2 separate regions of the Homo sapiens genome follow, and region 2 is linked to region 1. Evidence: fine-mapped expression QTL. A gene starts in region 1. The other region holds a variant in brackets. All regions are shown on one strand. Distances are between the middles of the regions.

Region 1 (8,344 bases):
AAGTCATTAGCAAAAAAATAAAAGTGAGAAATGCCCATTAAACTGATGTATAACATAACCACATTTATTCAAGCATGTATTCCAACATCAAATGGCAAATTCCAACAATGAAAAACCACAATAACTTTTGCACTCACCTAATAGTAGCTGTTTTCTGTTCCTTGCCCCTCTGGGTGGAGGTGGGATGGGTTTCCTTCTTGCTATTCAGTTACTCAGTGCTTTTGCTAAACCACATCCTCCCTTTTTCTTAACCTCACCTCCAACTTTGAACCTCATGTCACCAGAATATACCATGCTTGGGTTTCCAAGCTATACTTACCCACCAACCTCCAAGCCTTTTCAAGATTGTTGCTTCTGGCTTTCTCCAACATCATTCTTGTTATATTTTTTGGTGATTTCAGTATCCTCATGGATCATCCAATCAATGCTCTGGTGTTTGGTTTCTATGACCTCTTCTCCAGTGATCTTGTTCTTTAACCCACCTTAGCTTTCCCTCCTTTGGTCATACCATAGACTTTGACAGCACCAATAACCACAACCTCTGCATACACTCAGCTCCAAGCAGCCTACTCTCAGACCACCTCTTATCTTAGCACATTCTTTTGAGTATCCTGTTCTAACAAACTTTAGACCACCACAGGAACCTACAACTTCTTGACTCTACCAACTTTTCATAGTCCCTTACCTCCTACTTCTCTCATTGTATAACAAATGACCCTCAAATTTAGCATCTTAATACAACAAACATTATCTCACACAGTTTCTCGTTGGGCGGTCTGGCTCAGGGTCTCTTATGAGGTTGCAGTCAATTGTTGGCTGAGTACAGTCTCTGAAGACTTGATTAGGGCTGGAGGGTCTACTTCCAAGTTCTTTCACAGGGCAGCTGGCAGAATGTTTCAGTTTCTTGCCATGTGATCCTCTTTATAGAACTGCTAATGATGTACATGGCTTCCCTCAGAACAAGAGATCTGAGAGGGAGGGAGGGAGGGAAGGAGGGAGGGAGAGAGAGTGAGCGAGCCCATGTGAGCATATCTCTTATAACCTAACCTCTGTAGTAATATACCATCCCTTCTGCCATATTCTGTTGGTCATACAGTCCAACCTAGGTACAATGTGGGAGGGGACTACACAAAGGTGTGAACACCAAGAGGTGGGGATCATTAGGGGCCATCTTGGAGGTTGGCTACAATACTATTTTACAGAGAAAACAGAGTAATCAGAAGAGAATTTCCATAAGCTCCTGCCACCACATTACCTAATTATCAGTTTACTGTGTATTCTAACTTTTCTGCTATTATTATAATTAACCATACCTCCTGCTATCTAAGGCCAATCCCTCCACTTGTTCACTAAATTCCATTTCCTCTATGAGGTTTGCACAAAGACAAAATCACCTAACATTTATCAAAATGTATCCCCATCTTTAAGTGACACATGACTGTAGATCCCTAAATTCTCCCATATCTCTCCCGCATCATTAGTTTTCTCCTGTCTATTGGTTAATTTCCATCAATAACAAATATATGCTATGATCTTAAAGAACTCTCCAATGATCCTACCTCTACGTTCAGCCACCTCTTTCGCTGTGTCCCTTCACAACAAAATTCATGGAAAGAATTGTCTAAAATTGCTGTCTCCAATTCCTTCTCCTACTCTTTCTTGCCTAGCCCATCAGGCTTTTGCTCTCCAACTACTCTAAAGACACTGCTCTTTTAAAAGTTATCAATCACTTCCACATGGTCAAATCCAATAGTCAATTTTCAGTCCTTACCTTATTTGATCTGTCAGTAGGATTTAACACAGATTGTCTGCCCTCAATGGAACATTTCTTTTTCACCTGGCTTTCAAGGTATCACACCCTCATAGTTTTCTTCCTTGGTTTACTGATTAATCCTTCTCAATCTCTTAGCATTCTCCTCCTCTTTTTCTCAGCCTCTGTAATACTGACATACCCTGGGGCTGTTTTAGGATTTATTCTTTTATCTGTCTATATTCAACCCCTTGATGACTCCATCCAGTCTCATGGCTTTAAATCTACAGGCTAACGACTCTTAGATTTATATTTGTAGCCCAGAACCCTTCTCTGAGCTCCAGACACTTTTTCTCATACTATCTTCTCGGATGTTGATTAGATAAAACTTTATCTGCCCCAAACTGAACTCCTGATCTTCCCCTTTCCAAATCTACTCCTTCCACCATCTTCACTATCTCAGTAAATAGTAATTTCATCCTGACAGCTGCTCAGGATGAAACCCCTAGTTTTCCTTGACATCTCTCCCTCACACAATCCATATCCAAACCTTCAACAGATCCTGAAAGTTTTGCCTCCCAAATAGATACAGAATCCAACCACTTATCATCATCTCCACCACTACCTCCTTGATCCAAGACATCACAATCCCTTAACTGAATTATTGCAATAGCCACCTAATTGGTCTTCTTTACAGTCTATTCTCACTACAGCATTCGGAATTATTATTTTTTTAATTTTGTCACATTATGGTGTTCCTTTGCTCCAAACCTTGCTCCAGTGGCTCCCCATCTCAACACCTATGGTGGCTTACGATGTTTGATCGGATTGCCTGCTTGACCTACTGTCTCAGCATTCTTCCACTCTCCCTCTGCTCCAGTCACACTATCCTCCTGACTTTTTCTCAACCAGGCAATGCTTCCACCTTGGGGCGTTTATACTTGCTGTTATATCTGGAACATGTTTATAAAGCCTCCGTTGAAGAGCACAGTGGCTTCTTCCATTAACTCATTTAAGTCTTTGCTGAAAAGTATCTCAGTGCAGCTTCTCTGGACGTTCTAATATTTCATCCCTCCAATCCCCACCCTGCCCACCACACTCCCTATCCGCTTTCTTTGCTTTTACTCCACATCACACACATTTACTTACTCATTGTTTATTCGCTTATTTCCCCTCACTCTATTGTGAATTCCCTGAGCAGGGATATTTGTTTCGTTCATAGCTATGTATCTCCGGTGCTTGGAACAGTACTGGTTTATAAAAAGTTAGTAGTAATGTATGTTAATCGAATGAATAAATTATCCTACAGAGATAATTGAGTGTCTCTGGATTACAGCAGAGCTTGCAGCAGAGAGGGAGACCACTCAACAGGCCGTGATGTCCAAATATAATAAGATGTATGAAACAGTACTGTAAAATTAGCTGCACAAAGGATCCGAAAAATTTGTTAGCTTAGTTTGTTTCTCCAGGAAGCCGTGCCAGGCTCGCCTCCCTCTTTCATTCTTTTCCCGTGATTCCCTCTACTGGGACTCCTGACCCTCCTAGTCGCCAGATCACAGGCCCAACGCATCCCTTTCCGGAGGGATTTAGGAAGTCTCGGCGTTGGTCCAGGAACGACAGTCCCACCGCGCCTCACATGGCGCATTACCCAGCGACTCCGCTTACCCACACGTCCCCGCCCCCTCAGCCGGACAGGAAGAGGAAATGACGATACCTCGGGCGCTCGAAACTCCACCTCTCACGCCTTCCCAGCTCCGGGAGGGGACGCGGGCTCCGGAAAGGGCGGGCATAAGGCTACGGATGGGCGGGACGGAGCAGCCCACCGCAAAGTGGCGGTCTACTTGAGGCGGTTACCTTAGTACTCCGAGTAGACTGAGTCTGTGGCGAGCTGCGGGCCGATTCCTGGCCAGTGCCATCTCAGCCGGAGCAGGCCTCGGGGCCTCAGAAGCAGGCTTTTATCTGGCCCGAGGCTCCCAGCCGTTCAGCGCGTCTTCCCATAACCTATACCGATTATTGGGACTCTCGGCTGCAGACACAGGTCCCCGCCCCTCCCTCTTTCTCCGGGTTGCAGCTGTCATTCCTCCCTTCCCGCCTCGCTGCGCCCACAGCTGAGGACAGTCTTCGTTCTCTCATTCCCATCCTTTCTCTTCCCTCTCATCGCCATTTCTTCTAGAAGGCAACTTAAAAACCTTTCTTTGCCTCTTTATTTCTTCCCATTTCTCTTCCCTTCTTTTCTTCCTTTTTCTCTAGAATCCGTGTGTTTCCACTTCATGCCAGGCTTCTGCCTCCAGGGCTTCTCTCCTTTTCACGGGCCTGTGGCTCATGTGTTAGGAGGTTGAACTTTTAATGCAGTCATTTGAAGATTTTAAGCTTTTTCTTTCTCCTAATCAGGAGTCACAGATGCTGGGAAGTATGGCCCGAAAGAAACCTCGAAATACCTCAAGGTTGCCCCTGGCTTTAAACCCCCTGAAGAGCAAGGACGTGTTGGCAGTGCTGGCTGAGAGGAACGAGGCTATAGTACCAGTTGGGGCATGGGTGGAACCTGCCTCACCAGGTAGTTCGGAAATCCCAGCATATGTGAGTGTCAGTTTGATCCAAATATGGTGGGGTTCCCCACCACCCTTTTTATTAGCCTTCTCTAATCCTGGGTGCTTAAAGATGAACAGTCCGAGGATGCTGTTTCTATTCTGCCATAAATAGTTTATGCTCTTGCATTAGGATTATAGAACAAGTATTTGCCAAAACTTGACTGCAGCTTTAGTTGGCATAATCAAATATTTATTACTCACCTACTATAATATATAGAGCATAATCTACATGGAACAGGTTATATAGATATATATCTGTATATCAGTTTACTTCAGACTCTTGATTGCTTGTTATGCCCAAGACATAAGCACTATCTACATCTTCCAGACACTGCAACTTAGTATGGATGATAGTTGGCATACTTCAAGTAACATTAATTGGTTGCTTAAGGTTTATGATAAATTTTGTAATGAGGATTCAGGCAAAATGGAGTAATAGAATAAAGGAGAAAGAGATGAACTCTGATAATCTGAGAAAGTCTAACTAGAAATTCCATGGTTTCTGATAGTCTTTCACCAAACTGTGCCCCTTAGCTATTTGTTCAAATTTAACTTGGCACTTACCACATTGTGTTATAGTAGATTGTTTATATATCTTTTCCTGATGCAGTGTGAGCTCCTTGAGCGTAGAGAACAAATGTCATTTATCATCACATTCCCACTTTTATCTTAAATACTGCCTAATCAATATAGACACTCATGAAGTATTTATGAAAGGCACAAAATGTCTTCTGTATGTGTAGACAAGGTGCTGAACATGGATGAAAAAAGGATGAGATATGTTCCCTCAGTGTACTTGATCTCAGAAGAGAAATGAGATGTGTTTAAATGTTAAAGTAATGCAATATACTATATTCATTTTATTTATGTTTGCACATATGTATGTATATTCATTGATTTATTCCTACCCTGCCTATTTCCAAAAAGGATTTTAAGAGTCTAGGTGGTATCTCTATCTAAGTTCTAAGAATATAATGCTCAATCAAGAAGCTATGACGTTGGGTTGATGTGACCCAGGAAAGTGTAATGAAGAATTTGATCGGAGAAGGGAAGGGAATGATTCTCCTATTAAGGAGAATGAGGAGAGTAAGAAGTAAGCAAGGTTCAGGATTCTAAGGGTAGATTAGATCGATTGGAGTGGAAAGCTTAGTAGGAGAATGGTTGCTGACAGGATTATGGAAAATAGGGATGGTAGAGTACCTTAGGAAATTTTGGAGAAGGGATTGACTTTGTTTAATATTTACAGGTGAATGTCATGATCAACCAGTGTTTTCTTTAGATGAATTGCTTCAAAGGTTTTGAAGGATAGGGAGTGATTGGATCCTGGGGATAAATTAGAATATAATTATAATAATTTAAGCATGGAGTATAGCATCGAAACTTTGTTAGTGGTAAGAAATAGAGAAGAACAGCCTTGAAAAAGGATGATTGAAGTGCTTGAGCCCACGAATTGTAGGCTGCAGTGAACTATGATCATACTACTGCACTCTAGCCTGGGCAATAGAGTGAGACCCCATCTCTGGAAAAAAAAAAGGAGTGGAATGAGAAGGGATGAATGCAGGAAACACCCCACAAGACTTGGTAAGATTTGGTATAAAGATATTTTGGTATTTAAGTTGTTGACACCTCTTTGTAATTGCTCAAATTACATCTGTATAATATCAGTAGTGTCAACATGCCTAAAATTTGACACCATCAAACTTTTTCTATGTTAAGAAGTATTGACTATCGTATTCACACACATTAACTCAAAATATTAAAGTCTTGGAACATGGATAAACATATCTCCTTTTCCTGATTTAAAAATTTCTGATCAGTTCCAGCCAAAGGGAGTTTGATCAAGCATCTAATAGAACTCCTTATAGCTTTAGCATATCTAGTCTGGGTATCCACCCTTATTAACGGATATAGCTCTGTCAGCTCAAAATAAATGCTGAATAGTTACTTCTAAAGCTTGGCCCTTAGATCATGTCTGTTCTAAAGGGGAACTTCTACTCATTTTTCTCCCCAAAATTTCAGGGGGCCATCAGGATTCCTAAAAATGTCATAGCTTTAGACTACCTCCCCCCAATAATTATTAATAAATTAGCATCAAAAGACACTGCTGTTCTATCATCATATATGGGATTGCATTATTTTATAATTTGTTCTGGTTACCTTTTGCTGTGTAACCAACCACCCCAGAACTTAGTGGTATAAAGCAAATAATACTATGTAACAGGAATTTGAGCAGGGTACAGTGGTAATGGCTTGTTTCTGCCCCATAGTGTCTGGGACCTCAGCTGGGGCTCAAATAACTGGACATGTCTGAGACACCTTGACTATTTTCCGGCTATTGGCTGGAGCTAGACAATAGTCAAGTTCTCCCAGTAATGTGGCACCTGCTGGGCTGTAATGTCCAAGATGGCTTTCTTATTCACATATCTGACGCTTGGCCTAGGATGACTAGAATGTCTGGGTGCTGGTTAGATATGTTTCTCTTTTCACATGGCTTCTCTGTTTGACTAACTTGGGCTTCCTCACAGCATGGTAATCTCAGGGTAGTCTGAATTTTTATATGGTGCTGACTTCCTTCAGAATGAGCACTCTAAGAACAGAGGTGGAAGTTTCTTTATGACCTGGCTTGTAATCTTGTGGAGTAAAAGAGGAGCAGAGAAAATGGAGGTAAAAGAAAGAGGCCGAATGGCTTAAACTTGTCTGGGGCTTGAGTTAAGCTGGGTCAGTTGTTCAGGCTTCATTACGTATATATCTCTCCGTTGGAATTATTTTACCTAATTGTTCTTTGACACTTGTACACTCCACTAGAGTAGTTTATGGGATAGACATCTTGGAAATTTTAACTTAAATTGAAATTTGAATGCATTTGATTTTGAGAATTTAATGACAGCCTGTAAAATGATCTGAGGTACCCTTCAGAATTAGAAGTTGGAATCACTGAGTTAGAAGGAATAGGTACGAGATATGATGATGATTTTATTTAATTTGAAAATTCCTAGTGAAAGAGAGACATAGTCAAGAGAAAAGCAGTGTAGAGAGGAACATAATTGTTGGAGTCAGAAACTTCTAATTCTGCTACTAGTTAGCTATATTAAAATTACTTAATCTTTCTGAACTCCAGCTTCCTCATCTGTAACATAAGGGATAAGAATACCTACTGCCAAAGGTGGTTTTGAGGATAGAGTGCTACAAAGTAGTTAAAATACTTGTCACCTGATAGATCCATAATAATGATAAGTGCTGTTATGATGATGACTATGATTATTATTCAAAGCACTTAGAGGAGATAAATGCAGATCAAGAACTCAAATGGGATAAAGTGTTCCAGATTGTTCAGAACAAGCTTGTCCAACATGCGGCCATGGGCCACATGTGGCCCAGGATGGCTTTGAATGCGACCCAATGTAAATTAATAAATTTTCTTAATTAACACTATGAGTTTTTTTGTGATTTTTTTTTTTCTCATCAGCTACTAGTGTTAATGTATTTTATGTGACAGTTCTTCCAACATGGCCCAGGGAAGCCAAAATATTGGACACCCCTGGTTTAGAATATGTTTTGGAATTGAGCAATTATATAAATATATATTGACTACCCTTATAGTGAAGGCTCTGTACTAGATGCCGTAGGGGAAATAAAGGAGAATTGAATACATATCCTGTCCTCAAAGAGTTCATAATCTAGTAGGGGAGTCAAGAAGTACTATACTCAGTTAACATTGGTGAAATGAGAGGTGTTATAGCATAAGAGGGCTTAGAGAGAGAGTGTTGTGGAAGGTACTGGGGAGTGGGTATTAAATGGTTGTGAAAACTGAATAGGCCTTTACTAGGTGGAGATGAAAGGAAGGGCATGCCAGGTTAAAAATGGAGCATAATGCCAAATATGAAGACATTTTAACAATAGGACATATTTGGTGAGTGGTAAGTAACCTGGTGTGTCTTGACTATTTACTCCATTTTAGAAAATGTGTAACGTGTTAGGTTTTATTTGGTTCATTAAGATTTAATGA
Region 2 (8,344 bases), 82 kb after region 1:
TTCAGTGTGTTTGCTACTTCTCGCTCACTGGATCTAATCAGCATAATGTCATCAATGTAGTGGACCAGTGTGATATCTTGCGGAAGTGGAAAGTGATCAAGGTCTCTCTGAATAAGATTATGACACAAAGCCGGAGAGTTGATATACCCCTGAGGTAGGACAGTAAAGGTATATTGCTGGCCTTGCCAGCTGAAGGCAAATTGATTCTGTTGGACCTTATGCACAGGAGTGGAGAAAAAGGCATTTGCCTAGTCAGTGGCCACATACCAGGTACCAGAAGATGTGTTAATTTGCTCAAGCAATGAAACCACACCTGGTACAGCAGCTGCAGTTGAAGTCACCACTTGGTTAAGCTTATGATAATCCACTGTCATTCTCTAAGATCCATCTGTCTTCTGCACAGGCCAAATGGGAGAGTTGAATGAGGATGTGGTGGGAATCACCAACCCTGCATCTTTCGAGTCCTTATGGTGGCACTAATTGCCGCAATTCCTCCAGGGATGCAATATTGTTTTTGATTTACTATTTTTCTAGGTAGAGGCAGCTCTAATGGCTTCTATTTGGCCTTTCCCACCGTAATAGCCCTCACCCTACCAATCAGCCAATGTGGGGGTTCTGCCTGCTGCTGAGTATGTCTATGCCAATTATGCATTCTGGCACTGGGGAAATGACCACAGGATGAGTCTGGGGACCCACTGGACCCACTGTAAGTCAGACCTGAGCTAAAACTCCATTAATTACCTCACCTTCATAAGCCCCTTCTTTAACTGGAGGACCACAATGATGTTTTGGGCCCCTGGATTCAGTGTCAGCTCAGAGTCAGTGTCCAGTAGTCCCCGAAACGTCTGATTGTTTCCCTTTTCCCAGTGCACAGTTACCCTGGTAAAGTCCGGAGGTCTCCTTGGGGAAGGATGGGAGAAAGATTTATAGCATAAATTGTTGGTAGTATAGTGGGGTCCTTCCTCAAGGGGAGCAGACTTCCCCTTCATTCAAGAGGTTCTGAGTCTATAAACTGGCTCCAGTCTGGATATTGATTGAGGGGCCATGATTCTCTGTTTTTATATTTAAAATTAGTCTTTTGTCCACTTGACCTGGAATTTTTCTGCTTATATAAATTAAGTAGGAATGCAGTAGGATTCCTATCAATTTCACTTCTAGAAACACCGTGATTAATTAGCCAGTGCCAGAGCTCTGCATAAGTCAAACGATTCTGATTGTTGCTTTGCCTCTGCTGTCCATTATGGTAGCCGTGCCCATCTTGCCTTTGATGGTTGAGTGCTGCCACTTGGCCCTGCCATCTCGGGATCCAATTATTTCCATTGCATTTAAATTTTGTGGTTGAGTGACTGGGGTTCCCATTGTTAGATCTGGCATACATCAAGATCTTGAAGAGCAATCCTTACAGAGCTCTTCAAAGATGTAGGTGTTGCCCTCACAAATCTATTTTGGAAAGCATTGGTTAAGGATATATCTTCTGGACCCTCCCAGCTGGAATGAGAAGGTCTAAAGTGACTAATCCACTCCACCATTCCAATCTCTCTATACCTTTGGATCCCGTTCTAAACCAAGGGAGGAAATCAGGCATTTCCAGCTCGCTCACAGTGGGCCATCTTTTAAAAAGCTATATTTTAGCTAACCAAGCAGACAAACTATTAGAATCTTTTTTAACTCCCTGAGCTACAACATTAAATGTAGAATCCCTATTTAGTAGGCCCAAATCGACAAATTCACCTGATCAAACTCTATGTTCCTTCTATCATCATCCCACACCTTAATATCCATTCCCATGACTCTTCTCAAGATTTCTGCTTATATAAATTAGAGAACTCAAGCAGTTCTTTTTGAGTGTAGCACATCTCCTCATGGCCACACTCTGAACCTCACTTCTAGGAGCCTGCTAGGACTTTAGTCTTGTTATAGGTCTAGAAGCAAACAGAGGTGTTGGGGATAGCTCCTGAGGAGAATCAACTTATGTTGCCTGGCAACTGCCTCAGGGGAGGCCATCACTGTTGCCTCAGGCAGCACAGGGTTTATCCCCTCAGACAAAGGTGGAAAGGTTGATAGGAATGTGGGTCGGGGAGGGGATGTTGCCACTACTGGGGATGAGAAAGCTGTTTCTTCCGGCAAAAAAAATTCATCAGAGTTTACAAGCTCAGTGTCCCCAGTGTCATCAGGGTCCTCCCACATATCCCCATTCCCAGTTGCAAGGTCCCATTCTTTTCCAATCAATGCCCTCATTTTAACAGTAGACACCTGGCAAGGCTGTGCATGCACCTTTCATTGCAGGCCAGCCACTCGCGTGATAAAAGCTTGTGTCTGGTTTTCCACAGCTTCATCTCTTTCTCTTCAGGAGATAAGACTCTTACTCAGGGCAATCTTAGAAGATTTGAGGCTCAGTGTCTGCTTCTGAAGCCAGGAGTTAGCATCCCTGAGTTCATCATTTTCTTTCATCACTTTGTCCAGTGAACTTAGGAGCAACCAACCAACTTCATTATGTTCCTTGGTTCTCCACATATGGTCAAAGTTATTATGTACAGGGTCACTAAACTCCTTGCCTTTCATGAGCAGTGAATCAGGAGTGTCAAATGCATTTATTTTGCATAACTCTCTAAACAGTTCGTGCCAGGGACCATAGTGTTCTCCATACTATTAGAAGTAGAGTCCTTAACATTTTGGAGTCTAATCATATTTAGCAGCCAACTCCAGAAACCCCAAAACCAACAAAAGAACTCCATCCTTAATATTTGTTGGTACCAAAATCTGTATTACTCAGGATTCTCTAGAAAGACAGAACTATATATATGCATAGTTATATATATATAAACTCTCATATATATATGGGAGTTTATTAAGGAGTATTAATTCACACAATCACAAGGTCCCAAAATAGGCCATTTGCAAGCTGAGGAGCAAGGAAGCCAGTCTGAGTCCCAAAGCTGAAGAACTTGGAGTCTGATGTTGGAGGGCAGGAAGCATCCAGCATGGGAGAAAGATGTAGGCTGGGAGGCTAAGCCAGTCTAGTCTATTCACGTTCTTCTGCCTGGTTTTTATTCTGGCCACGCTGGCAGTTGATAAGATTGTGCCCACTCAGATTAAGGGTGGGTCTGCCTTTTCCAGTCCACTGGCTCAAATGTTAATCTCTTTTGGCCACACCCTCACAGAAACAGTCAGGAATAATACTTTACATCCTTCAATTCAATCAAGTTGACAGTATTAACCATCACAATGACCTTCTTTGTCTTTTTTTATAGTTTTTGTCTTGAAATCTATTTTGTCTGATATTAGTATAGCTACTCCTGCTCTTTTTTGGTTTCTATTTGCATGGAATATTTTTTCCATCTCTTTATTTTCAGCCTATATGTGTCTTTGTAGATGAAGTATGTTTCTTGCAGGCAAGGAATTGTTGGATCTTATTTTGTAACCTATTCAGCCACTCAACATCTTTTGTTTGGAGAGTTTAGTTTATTTACATTCAATGTTATCATTGTTAAGTAAGGACTTACTTCTGCCATTTTGTTACTTTTTTTTCTGGTTGTTTCATGGTCTTCTTTCTTCTTCTTTCCTGTCTTTTAGTGAAGGTGATTTTCTCTGATGACATGTTTTAATTTATTGCTTTTTATATTTTGTGTTATCTGTTGTATGTTTCCAAATATGAAGTTACGATGAGGCTTGCAAATAATATCTTATAACCTGTTGTTTTAAACTGATGACAACTTAACAGTGATTACATAAACAAACTAACAAGTAAAGAGAAAACTAATAAAAACTCTACACTTTAACATCATGCCCCTACTTTTAACTTTTTATTGTTTCTACTTATATTTTATTGTACTATGTCTTGAAAAGTTGTAATTATTATTTTTGATCAGTTCATCTTTTAGTCTTCCCACTCAAGATATGAGTAGCTTACACACCACAATTACAGTGTTTTGATATTCTGTCTTTTTGTGTACTTACTATTACTAGTGAGTTTTGTGCCTTCGGATAATTTCTTATTTTTTATTAAGGTGCTTTTCTTTCAGATTAAAGAACTCCCTTTAGCTTTCTCA[T/C]AGGATAGGTCTGGTGTTGATGAAATCTCTCAGCTTTTGTTTGTCTGGGAAAGTCTTGAATTCTCCTTCATGTTTGAATAATATTTTCACCAGACATACTATTCTGCAATAAAAGTTCTTTTTCCTTTGGCACTTTCAATATATTATGTCACTCTTTCCTGGCCTGCAAGGCTTCCACTGAGAAGTCTGCTGCTAGGCATATTGAAGCTCCACTATATGTTATTTGTTTCTTTTCCTACTTTTAGAATCCTTTCTTTATTATTGACCTTTGGGAGTTTGATTATTGAATGTCTTGAGTTAATGTTATTTGGGTCAAATCTGCTCAGTAACCTTCTTGCACTTGAATATTGATATCTTTCTCTAGGTTTGGGAAGTTTTCTGTTATTATCCCTTTGAATAAACTTTCTACCCTCATCTTTCGATTTCCTCCTCAAGGCCCAAAACTCTTAGATTTGCCCTTTTGAAGTTACTTTCTAGGTATCATAGGCATACTTTCATTCTCTTCTATTCTTCTTCCTTTTGTCTCCTATAACTGTGTATTTTCAAATAGCCTGTCTTCAAGCTCACTAATTCTTTCTTCTGCTTGATTAATTCCACTATTAACAGACTGTGATGCATTCTTTAGTATTTCAGTTGCAGTTTTTAACTCCAGAATTTCTACTTGATTCTTTTAAATTATTTCAATCTCTTTATTAAATTTATCTGATAGGATTCTGAATTCCTCTCTGTGTTCTCTTGAATTTCTTTGAGTTTCCTCAAAACAGCCATTTTGAATTATCTGTCTGAAAGGTCACACATCTGTGTCTCTCTGGGATTAGTCACTGGTGACTTATTTAGTTCTTTTGGTGAGGTCATATTTCCTGAGTAGTCTTGATGCTTGTGGATGTTCACTGGAGTCTGGGCTTTTTTTCTGCCTCTTTGTGTGCTTAGTAATCTTTGGTTAGATGCCCAACGTTATGAGTTTTACCATGTTAGTTGCTGGATGTCTTTACATTATTGAACCTGGTTTTGGTATACAGTCAAGTTCATTTGATGACTTGCTTTTATAACTTGTTAGGTGGGTCTGGTGCAGTACTCAGTCTGGGACTAGTGTTTATTCCCTACTGCTCAGATAAGATCATTCTGAATACTCTACCTAATGTTCTGTGAAATACAAGTTTTTCAAGTTTGATTGGTGGAAATAAGGACAAATTATTCCTGGAGCTAGGTGGACTCTAGTCACTGTTCTCTTTTATTTTGGATTGTTCTCTTCCTAGCCTCAGGTTATTTCATTGCATACATGCACCAATCAGTGCTCTGCTGTGTACCAGGAGACTCTCTGTTCATTTCTGGGGTGCTGTCTCTGGGCAGCTTTCTTCTCTCTGGTACTTTGTCCTGTGAACTCTAACTGCCTTTGTCTCTCTGCACTCTTAACTCCATCTCTTCAATTCTTAGAGCCCATCAGGCTTCACTTCAATTTCCCTGCCCTGTGCCACTGCCTGGAACCTTCCAAGGCAGTAATCTCTAGCAGTTATAGGGTTTACTTCACTTGTTTCCCATCTGTCAAGGAGCAGTGTTGTTTGTTACCTGGTGTCCAATGTCTTGAAAACCATCATTTCTTGTATTTGTTTGATTTGTGTACTTTTTAAAACTTTTTAAATTTTTTTGGTGGTTTAAGGTTGGAGGGCAAATGCGGTCCCTGTTACTCTGTTTTGGTCAGAAGCAGAATCCCTGTTTACTTGTAGTTTCAATCTGAAAAGACTGTTTTGCTACATTCTTACAGAAAAACTGTTTTTTTTTTTTTTGAGATATGGGGTCTGGCTCTGTTGCCCAGGCTGGAGTGCAGTGGTGCAATTTCAGCTCACTGCAACCTCTGCCTCCTGAGTTCAAGTGATCCTCTGGCCTCAGCCTCCTGAGTAGCTGGGATTACAGGCCCGTGCCACCACTGCCTGGCTAATTTTTGTATTTTTAGTAGAGATGGGTTTTCACCATGTTGGCCAGGCTGATCTGAAACTCCTGGCCTCATATGATCCATCTGCTTCGGCCTCTCAGAGTGCTGGGATTACAGGCATGAGCCACCGCACCTAGCCAGGAAGAACTCTTTTAATAGTAGCCATTGCTCATTTCTCTTTGGGAGGAGATAAAGCAGCCAGCAGAAATTTTTGAGGATATTCTTGGGATATTAAACTGATTTCCTGACTCCTTAGTTTCTGGGAATTTCTGGGAGTTATTTGGATAAAGAAGCTAATTTTAAATAATAATTTTATGAAATTCCTAACCATGTTATGATTTTATTTTCAGAATTAAGAAAAAGAGAGAGCAAGAATGTTATGCTGCAGAGCAGAGGATCCTAAGAATGAACTTTCATGAAGATCCATATTCAGGAGAGAAGTTGAGTGAGATATTAGCCCAGTTACAACTTCAAGAAATAAAAGGAACCAGAGAAAAACAACAGAGAGAAAAAGAATACCTGAGGTAATTTGAAAAGGTCTTCATGATATTTTGGCTCTAGAAGAGACTTGGTAGAACTCATTGTTCTCATTTTCCTTAGAAGAGAATTGACTGTGTCTTTTCATACTTTTCCTCATTTAGGAGTTCATAACTTCACCAAATTTTTTGATTGCCTAATACTTCTTGGGTGTAGCCCTGCGTTTTTCCCAGTACAAAGAGGAAATGTCAAGGCCCAGAGATACGGAATAGATTTAACAGTTAAATCTGGCTGTAAAATCAGGATTCATACTCACTTTCTTTTTAATAGTTCACTTTGCCTGATTATACTTTATTTGTACAGATATGTAGAAGCTTTACGAGCCCAAATCCAGGAGAAAATGCAGCTGTATAATATTACTTTACCTCCACTATGCTGTTGTGGTCCTGATTTTTGGGATGCTCATCCTGATACCTGTGCCAACAACTGTATTTTCTATAAAAACCACAGAGGTAAGTTTCTTGAAGGAATAGTCAGGGCCTAATGGCAACAAGAAAAATAAATAAGAGTAGTGGTAATAGTAATTTACCATTTATTGAGTGCTTACTATGTATCAGAGACTGTTATAAACCCTTTACAAAATAACTATATGAGGCAGTGAAAAAATTATAATGAGTTATATTTCTCTTTGAGATCTGTTATCTTCTTGTCTCCATTTATGCTGGGGAAATATTTTCAGCTCATTCTACTGTAGGAGGTCTTGAGTTTCAGGTCCTTTAACTGAAGACTATTAGAATTTGCCTTTTATGTAAGTTAGGACTCTATCCAGTTGAATTCCCTATTACTCAAATACTTTAATGGTATGTAACATGGACGTATTACCATATATATCCACATTAGATTGCTAGTTCTGCCAGGAGGCACTGAGAAAAATAAGAAACAGTATAAACTCTATCAGGAGTCCCAGCTAGAGAAAACTTAGTCCTTCATATTGTCATTAATATTTCTGTTTCCTATCCATCCTTAAATATATTGATTTATATAGTATAAAGATTATGTAGCCCTCATGTATACACTAGGAATACTGCCAGTATATATATTCCTAGTGCTTCATCTGTATAATACAAGTTTCTTATCAGCTTTATTTTAAAAAACACAAATCTAATTATGCCATTTCCCTATTCTAAAACCTCTAGGGCTACCCACTGCAGTATAAGATGCATGGCATGTTTGGTATATTTTCTCTCTGGCTCTGGGCCCTACTCTAGCCTTATCAAAGTTGCTATTCCCAGTATGTGCCATATTGTTTACTCCTTTTGCACCTCACACTCAGTTCTCTGTGTTCTTTCCTTTACTCTTGTTATTTCTTCATAACTCGTCTTAAGTGTTAACCACTTCTGGGAATCTTTGCCATCCTGTCCTAGGTAGTTGTGCATTCATTCCCAACTTCATTCTATGATGACATTTGTTGTTGTTGTTTGTTTTTTTGTTTTTGTTTTTTTTTTTCCGAGACAGCCTCACTCTGTCGCCCAGGCCAGAGTGCAGTGGCACGATCTCGGCTCACTGCAACCTCTGCCTCCTGGGTTCAAGCGCCTCAGCCTACCGAATATCTGGGATTACAGGTTTGTGCCACCACATCCAGCTAATTTTTGTATTTTTAGTAGATACGGGGGTTTGCCATGTTGGCCAGGCTGATCTCGAACTCCTGACCTCAAGTGATCCGCCTGCCTCAGCCTCCCAAAGTGCTGGAATTACAGGTGTGAGCCACTGTGCCTGGCCTATGATGACATTTTGTATATACCTTTGGTTTGGAAGTATTACATGGCAACTTAATTATTTTTGTGTCCATACTCTTTATTATTTTTTCTGTCCTCACAGAGTGCTTGTC

What was found.
Region 2: its variant is fine-mapped to the expression of CCDC15-DT in cerebellar hemisphere (GTEx, PIP 0.96).

Annotation. Positions count from the first base shown.
Region 1 is chr11:124,950,583-124,958,926 of GRCh38, forward strand. CCDC15-DT (CCDC15 divergent transcript) reads right to left here and starts at 3,409. Exons shown (of 3, transcript XR_948134.3): 1 at 2,900-3,409; 2 at 757-968. It overlaps CCDC15 (coiled-coil domain containing 15), which reads left to right and starts at 3,620. Exons shown (of 16, transcript NM_025004.3): 1 at 3,620-3,788; 2 at 4,142-4,327. The coding sequence starts at 4,151. RefSeq lists an enhancer at 3,280-3,823.
Region 2 is chr11:125,032,102-125,040,445 of GRCh38, forward strand. CCDC15 (coiled-coil domain containing 15) reads left to right here. Exons shown (of 16, transcript NM_025004.3): 14 at 6,330-6,503; 15 at 6,820-6,968. Among named protein-coding and RNA genes, the nearest start is that of SLC37A2, 27 kb to the right of the region's middle. The variant T/C (reference allele first, on the strand shown) is at 4,050.